Linked DNA regions of Homo sapiens. The protein of the gene in region 1 purifies or fractionates together with the protein of each later gene. This does not show direct contact. Each region holds a gene or a part of one and is shown on either strand. Other genes may lie near its edges. The genes, in order: KCTD19 and KCTD15.

The links.
Region 2: the proteins of KCTD19 (region 1) and KCTD15 purify together in Homo sapiens (affinity purification with mass spectrometry; one large-scale study listed by BioGRID and IntAct). This does not show direct contact.

The regions. Positions count from the first base shown.
Region 1 is NC_000016.10:67,306,186-67,309,995, reverse strand, and holds part of KCTD19 (BTB/POZ domain-containing protein KCTD19), read left to right. Parts: intron 1-3,810. UniProt on the Homo sapiens protein: Transcription regulator which is essential for male fertility and for the completion of meiotic prophase in spermatocytes. Regulates progression of the pachytene stage of meiotic prophase and promotes the transcriptional activation activity ZNF541.
Region 2 is NC_000019.10:33,799,791-33,803,600, forward strand, and holds part of KCTD15 (BTB/POZ domain-containing protein KCTD15), read left to right. Parts: intron 1-637; 5' UTR 638-664; coding exon 665-730; intron 731-1,376; coding exon 1,377-1,552; intron 1,553-3,810. UniProt on the Homo sapiens protein: During embryonic development, it is involved in neural crest formation. Inhibits AP2 transcriptional activity by interaction with its activation domain.

The DNA.
Region 1 (3,810 bases):
AGGATGGCAATCTTTGTGGACTTGCTTTAGTTTTTCTCTTTTTTAAGATTTCTTGGGCATACCTTTCTTGGGGAAAATGGTGCTGCTAACACTTTACATGCTTGGAAATAGCAGGAAATGGAGATTTCATTTCTGCAAAATAGATCATTCTCTCCTCAACTAGCACATCTCCTCTCAAACTAGCTAGACTGTCACTACTGACCCATTCCAGAGGACACATCCAGTACCAAACACCTCCAAATAGGAGTGTTGTCCTGGGCAGGGATTTCTCTCCCCTTCTCCCCACCACAGGCCTTCTCCCACGTGGCCAATTTAGAGTTGTTCAAAGGCACTATTATTTTCTCCACTAAGACAGAATCTTGGGGGTTGAATCTGTAGGTGAAGTAAGTGGCAGATTCAAGCTCCTGTGATGCAGTCCACTGAGCATGGGCTTGGAGTGCTACGCTGCCCTAGCTGACTTTCCCTAGTTTCACTCTTTTCTTGCTACTTTGCCTACTGTCTTTCTGTCCATCACAAATCAGACCCAAGCTAAACCCTTTCTTCTTGCCATCCTCTCTCCCTCTCCTTCATCCCTGTCCCTCTCCCCGTTAGGTCTTCCCTCTGGCCTCCAGATCCCAACGTGGAATCCCTGTCTTCATTGTCCTCTGAACTCCATAGGCTCTGCCCATTGTAATCTTGTGCTGGTTTTTCCTGTGGTTTTGGATACTCAATGTCTTTCCATCTTTCTCAGTTTTATGAGTGCAGTCTACTTCTCTGTTCGCTTCTTTGGAGATCTCCCATGTTTCTTTTTGCTTTTCTTTGCAGAGAATCAGCCCTCCAGCCCTTCCTTTTCTTTCTTTCTTTCTTTTTTCTTTTTTTTTTTTTTTTGAGCTGAAGTCTCGCTCTGTCTCCTAGGCTTGAGTGCAGTGGCATGATCTCGGCTTACTGAAACCTCTGCCTCCTGGGTTCAAATGATTGCCTCAGCCTCCAGAGTAGCTGGGACTACAGGCATGCACCACCAAGCCCGGCTAATTTTTTGTATATTTAGTAGAGTTGGGGTTTTGCCATGTTGGCCAGGCTCGTCTCAAACTCCTGACCTCAAGTGATCGGCCCAGCTCGGCCTCCCAAAGTGCTGGGATTACAGGTGTGAGCCACCGCACCTGGCTAGCCCTCCATTTTCATGCATTCTTTCATATGCATGCTAGGTTCTAGAACACAAAATGGGGATGCATCAAACCAGCCTCTCCCCAGGAAGCTTGGTATAGGGGGAAGAACTGGCCTGAAACTGAGCCAGAGGCCTGCAGAGAGAAGTGAAAGTGTTGAGTGTCTGTGGGAACAAAGTGGGGGGATGACCCATTCTGGCTCAGAGAGGCTCCAGGCTCTTCAGGAAGAGAATGGGGAGGAGTATTCTGGGCAGATGGAACAGCGTACACAAAGCTGGGGAGGTGTCAAAGAACGTGATGTGTTTTTGGAGTTTTGTGGAGTTTAGTGTCACTGATGATGGGGTGTAAACATAAAGAATGATGGGAAATGAGGCTGGAAAGGTAATTTAGGCTGGGCGCAGTGGCTCATGCCTGTAATCCCAACACTTTGGGAGGCCGAGGTGGGAGGATCATTTAAGCTAAGGAGTTTGAGACCAGCCTGGGCCACATAGCAAGACCTCATCTCTACAAAAAATCAAAAAGTTAATGGGGTGTTGCGGCGCACAGCTGTGGTCCAGCTACTTGGGAGGTTGAGGCAGGAGGATTGTTTAAGCCCAAGAGGTCAAGGCTGCAATGAGCCATGATGATTGTACGACTGCACTCCAGCTTGGGCGACACAGCAAGGCACTAAAAAAAAAAAAAAAGAAAAGAAAGAAGGAAGGAAGGAGGGAGGATGGGAGGGAGGGAGGAAGGAAGGAAGGAAGAAATTTAGGATATGACCTCCAAAAGGAAGGAAATTAACATACTATTTCATTTAATCTTTACAACAGCTTCCAGATTTTACTGCCTCCACTTTGCCAGTGAGGAACCTGAGGCTTGGAGAAGTTACATGACAAGTGGAAGGCAGCAGAGGCTGGGAAAAGTAGGGGGAGGGAAGGAGATGAAGAGAATTTGGATAATGGGTACAAAATTACAGTCAGATAAAAGGAATAAGTTCTTGTATTTGGTAGTACGCTAGGAATACTATAGTTAATAATAATATATTGTGTATTTCAAACTAGCTAGAAGAAAATCATTGGAATGTTTCCATCACAAAGAAAAGATAAATGTTTGAGGTGATGGGTCTGGCCCAGTGGTTCATGCCTATAATCCCAGGAGGCCAATATGGGAGGATCGCTTGAGCCCAGGAGTTCAAGACCAGCCTGGGCAACATGGCAAAGCCCTGTCTTTACAAAAAACTTAAAACTTAGCTGGCTGTCGGCCAGGCGTGGTGGCTCATGCCTGCAATCCCAGTACTTTGGGAGGCTGAAGCAGGCCGATCACTTGAGTCCAGGAGTTTGAGACCAGCCAGGGCAATGTGGCGAAACCCCACCTCTACTAAAAATACAAAAAAATTAGCCAGGTGTGGTGGTGCACGCCTGTGGTCCCAGCTGTTTGGGAGGCTGAGGTGGGAGGATCACCTGAGCCTGGGAGGCGGAGGTTGCAGTAAGTCAAGATTGGGCCACTGCCCTCCAGCCTGGGCAACAGAGTGAGACCTTGTCTCAAAAAAAAAAAAAAAATTAGCAGGGTGTTGTGATGTGCACCTGTGGTCCCAGCTACTCAGGAGGGTGAGGTGGGAGGATCAGTTGAGCCCAGTAGGTCAAGGCTGCAGTGAGCTGTGATCATGCCACTGCACTCCAGCCTAGGTGATAGAGTGTGACTCTGTCTCAAAAAAAAAAAATGACGTGATGGATATCTTCATTACCCTAAATTAATCATTATACATTGTATCCATGTATTGAAATATCACATGTACCCCAAAAATATGAACAACTATTACATATCAATAAAAAGAAAACAGTTGCTAAGGGCTTGGGCTCCAGAGTCCTGGGTTTCATTCCTAGTATCTCCACTTACTTGGTGCACTTAGTCCCCTACCTCTTCCTGGACCTAGCTTCCCATGTGCTCAAAGGGAGTGATGATACCAGAGCCTACTTTGTTGTCAGGGGAAGATTGGAAGGATTCAGTTTAAAAGTCCATGGGTAATAAATGTTAGCTTTTAAGTGACAGAGTCAGAATTTACCCCAGATATGCTGAGTTCAAAGCCCTTGTTCTTTTCGTGTATACCCTACTCCCTCCATTGATTGTGAAGGACCCTATGTGCAATGCAAAGGAGAGTCTGGATTTATCCCATAGCAACAGGAAGCACTAAAGTTTTTTAAGATGAGGAGTGATTTGGACTCACCTCATATGTTTGCAAGATCACTGTGTGGAGAGGACCTGGGGGCTAGGGGACCAGGACTAGGGGAAAGGAAAGGAGAGAAAATGGAGAGGCAGGACGGGCACGGTGGCTCACGCCTATAATCCCAGCACCAGCCGAGGCTGGTGGATCATTTGAGGCCAGGAGTTTGAGACCAGCCTGGCCAACATGGTGAAACCCCATCTCTACTAGAAATCCAAAAATTAGCCAGGCATGGTGGTGGGCACCTGTAATCCCAGGTACTCGGGAGGCTAAGGCAGGAGAATCACTTGAACCCAGGAGGCGGAGGTTGCAGTGAGCCGAGATTGCACCACTGCACTCCAGCCTGGGTGACAGAGCGAGACTCTAATGTTCCCTTCTAATGCTGTGGAAAGAAATCCCAGGGTTCCTGGAGGTCCAGAAACTTCATAATTGACACTGGCTCTAATCTCAGTATACGTAAATTGTGGT
Region 2 (3,810 bases), on another chromosome or scaffold:
TGAGGTACAGACTAGGCAAACAAAGACAGGTTTTCTCTGCTATTGGGAGCCACAGAGAAGAGGCGGCTTCCCAAGTGACTTGCCCTCATCCATGTGCCTGGACTTCTGCTGAACGGCTTCCCTGTGTCTGGCCAGATGCAAGCTGTATCTTATCACCATGGGGATGGTATTAAGAGAGGTCCTAGGTTCCCTGGCCCATGGAGGGTGAGGGGTGCTTTCTGAGCCTTGGTCCACAAGGCTGTTGCAAGAGGAGACACGCTTGGTAACATGGCTTGAAAGGAAAATACCAGGAAAATCTGGTTTGTTCTGAAATATTTTGGGGCAATAATGGTGAGCATATGTTTCAGTGCTGTCATTAGCCGAATTAGCAGACATGGAGCTGCCCAGAAAACACATGTGTGAGTGTGACTGTGTGTGTGTGCATGTATGTGTGTGTCATCTGCTACAGCCTGGAGGCCTGCTTTGGGGTGTGGAGACAGATAGAGAGATAGTGGCGGTGGAGTCAATCAGGGAGGGCTGCATGGACCTCGCAGGGTCTCAGAGAGCATGCAGAAAGGACAATTCTAAGTGTCTTTGACCCCATGGTACATGACTAGGAGGAATAAGCCTTCTCTGGTTTTGTCGATGCCTCCCGCAGATACTCTGGGCAGGGATGGAAGCCTAGATGCCTCACCGCAAGGAGCGGCCGAGCGGGTCCTCGCTTCACACACACGGCAGCACCGGCACCGCGGTGAGCCTGCAGGGTGGGCTGGGTCCCTGCCGGGAGTTCCCTCTTTCCCTTCTTCCCCAGTGCCTGTTTACTGGCTGTCCTTCCTTGGGACCATGACACTCCAGGTGGCTGTTGACTGGCTGTAGGATTATGTATTTTTGAAACAAAAATGCTCTTAATTTGATGTGAAATTTACTACATGTATAAAACTCAACGCCTTAGGTGCTGAGGAAGTCACTAATTTAGAGGTGTCTCGTTACTGAGACAAACTTGCAAAAAACCCCTGAATCCCAATTCACAAATTGGTGATTCGTTTGTCAGGGGATATTTCACATCTAACACATAAGCCCACGACCTTTAATTAGAATTTTGCAGTTTGTTTTATGCCCCTGGAGGCTGACACCTTGAAAAATTTTTTTTCTTGATTTCTTATTGCTAATAAGCATCTTTCTTTTTCCCTCTGGTACTTTGAAGAAAATGATGCAAATACACTTAATTACAGTGGTGGCCATAATTTGTCAGCTGAATATATGATCAGGCACGGGCAGAAGTGATCTGATTAGATCTGTGATCACACTCTCAATAAAGGGAGTGCATGGCTGTGTTGTGGAGAAACTCTTGTGTTCCGCTTTGAAACTCTTGTGTTCCGCTTTGTTTCCATCTCTAGGAGGGAGGAAACATGTCCCGGCTGTCTCTCACCCGGTCGCCTGTGTCTCCCCTGGCTGCCCAGGGCATCCCCCTGCCAGCCCAGCTCACCAAGTCCAATGCACCTGTGCACATCGATGTGGGCGGCCACATGTACACCAGCAGCCTGGCCACGCTCACCAAGTACCCTGACTCCAGGTAAGAGTAAGCCCCTTGAAACATCAGGCATGTGTGGGTCAGGGCAGCATCTGTAATCTGCTGCCTAGGGGGTGGGGTCTCTCCCCACTGTCACTCCACCCACCAGGGTCTCCAGGGTGCACAAGCTGACACAGCCTGAGGGAGCTAGGGTTGGGGAGTCCAAGTCTGCCTGTTGAAAGCTGCTATGCACAGAGGCTTGTGACCCTGACTTGGCGGCATTGGTAGTGCAAGGTGGAGCTCCTGACCCACCTGCAGGGGACTAGGGCTTATTCAGAGCCAGCCCAGCCTGAGCCTGCCGGCAGCGGGCAGGGGAGTCTCACGTACCTTCAAGGTTCCTCTGGAGGGAGACTTAGGCCCGGCCCCTGCAGGGGGTCATTTGTGAGTGATACTGAGTAGGTAAGTCTTGGGGGCATGGGGGTGGGTATTTAATCCTATTTTCTATTCCACCCCTGGGAAATTCACAAGGGGAGGGAAGAGGAGCTGTGGTGAGCTGCAGTGTGCCATCTTTGTCATTTTCCGTGGCCACTGCTGGGCCCTAGAGGCTAGCAGCAGGCTTCCCTTGGAGCTGGTGCTGCAGTGACTAGCTAGGAATGAATCACATACCTCATCAGTGGATAAAGGGTCTCTGGCCAGGACCCTGGTTGGGGGCTCACAGGCACCCTCCATGCTGCTGAACTTATAGGCTGCCCAGGCCCTTGGGCCTGCGAGAGGTTTGGGGTGCTGGGTGCTGCCAGCTCTCCTGCTCTTCCTTGCAGGGTGTTTCTCTCCTGGGTGAGGGACCTGCTTTCCCCGTTGGCACGGCAGCAGGGCTGACCCGAGTAGGGTGGGTCTTGAGCAGCTTGCTCAGCCGAGGATGTTTGCTCCTGGCACAGAGAGGCGGTCATCGCTCCCCTGGGGCTGCTGAAGGCTGAGCGTGGGAGGGCCAAGGCTGTGGGCATCACCCCTGTGTTATGCATTTGAAATAACAGGAGGAGTTAATTAATCCCCCAGATACTGAGGGATCATCTCTGGGGAGCATACACGGCAGGCTGCATTGTCACCGGTGTGGTTCCTCAGAGCAGGGAGGATGGTAGTGCGCAGAGGTGGCTTTCCAAGCCTGTTGGGGCTGCAGGGGAGCCTGTGCAGGTGCAGGCATGGTCCCTTGAGGAGGAAAAACTGGAAATGGGTGCAGTGTCTAGTTCCAAATTTGGAGAGTCTAGGGTACAGATGGTGACTGGTGTTCCAGTACCCCAGGTGGACAGAGACTCAGCCTGGGGCCCTGTGGCCTTGGGGCTTGTGGGGTGGGGACAAGAGCCACGGGGCCAGGTCAGCAGTGTTGGCCTGTGTGCTCACTCACAGAGCCCTGTCTAGGATGGGAGATAGATTCTGCTTATTTAATTTCCATTTTGCCTTCTGCGGCATTTCTGAGTTGTTTGAGATAGATCATCCCTTAATCGGTTGACGACGTTTGTGAGTGAAATTCATAAAACCTTTGCCCACAACCCTCTCTGAAGAGTTTCCTGAAATCAGAGAGTTGCCTGTCTGGAGTAATCACAGCCCAGGCCCTGGGGGAGGCGGGTGGGAGAGGCTTCTCATTCTGGGCTCTTGGCTGCTGCCTGAGAGCAGGAGGGCAGGGGGCCATCTCCCCCCACCCAGCCCCACTGTGCTGCTCACCCATTGCTTTGTTCTGCTGTGGGATGTGCTCTCATGGGGAGCTAGGGCCCCTGTGGCCCTGTGATCTGGCACTTGGGACCCTCCTGGTGTGCCCAAGGGGTGGCAGTCTATGTTTATTCTTCCCCAGGGCTGGGGCTCAAGGTGAATCTGTTGTTCTGCCTGGATGGCCTCTGGCTGCTGTGGGGGTGCTCTGTAGGCCTGAAGCTTTGGACTAGAGGCCAGGGATGGCTGACCTGCAGGACAATCAGGGGACAGGAGGCCAGGGGGCCTGAGAAGTGGGTCAGGCAGCTGTGCTGGCAAGAGCCCCTCAGATCTCTCTTGTCCTTCCTGTAGTGGATTATTATAATATAAGCAGTTTTCTACCAATTCTGGAAAAAATCAATCTCACCTAGTGTCACTGATCTAGGAGACACCTGGAGATGGAGGACTAAGAGTGCTGTGGTCCTCAGGGGGTTTCTGGATGGTGAAGATGACCTGCCCTAGGCAGCATTGTAAAAGCTGGGACCTCTACCCTCGGCTCCCCTGAGAACTCTGCCTGAGCCTCTGGGTCTCGGCGGTTGGGGTGGCCTGGGTGCTGGAGAGTCTCGTGCTGGGTGACTCCTCTG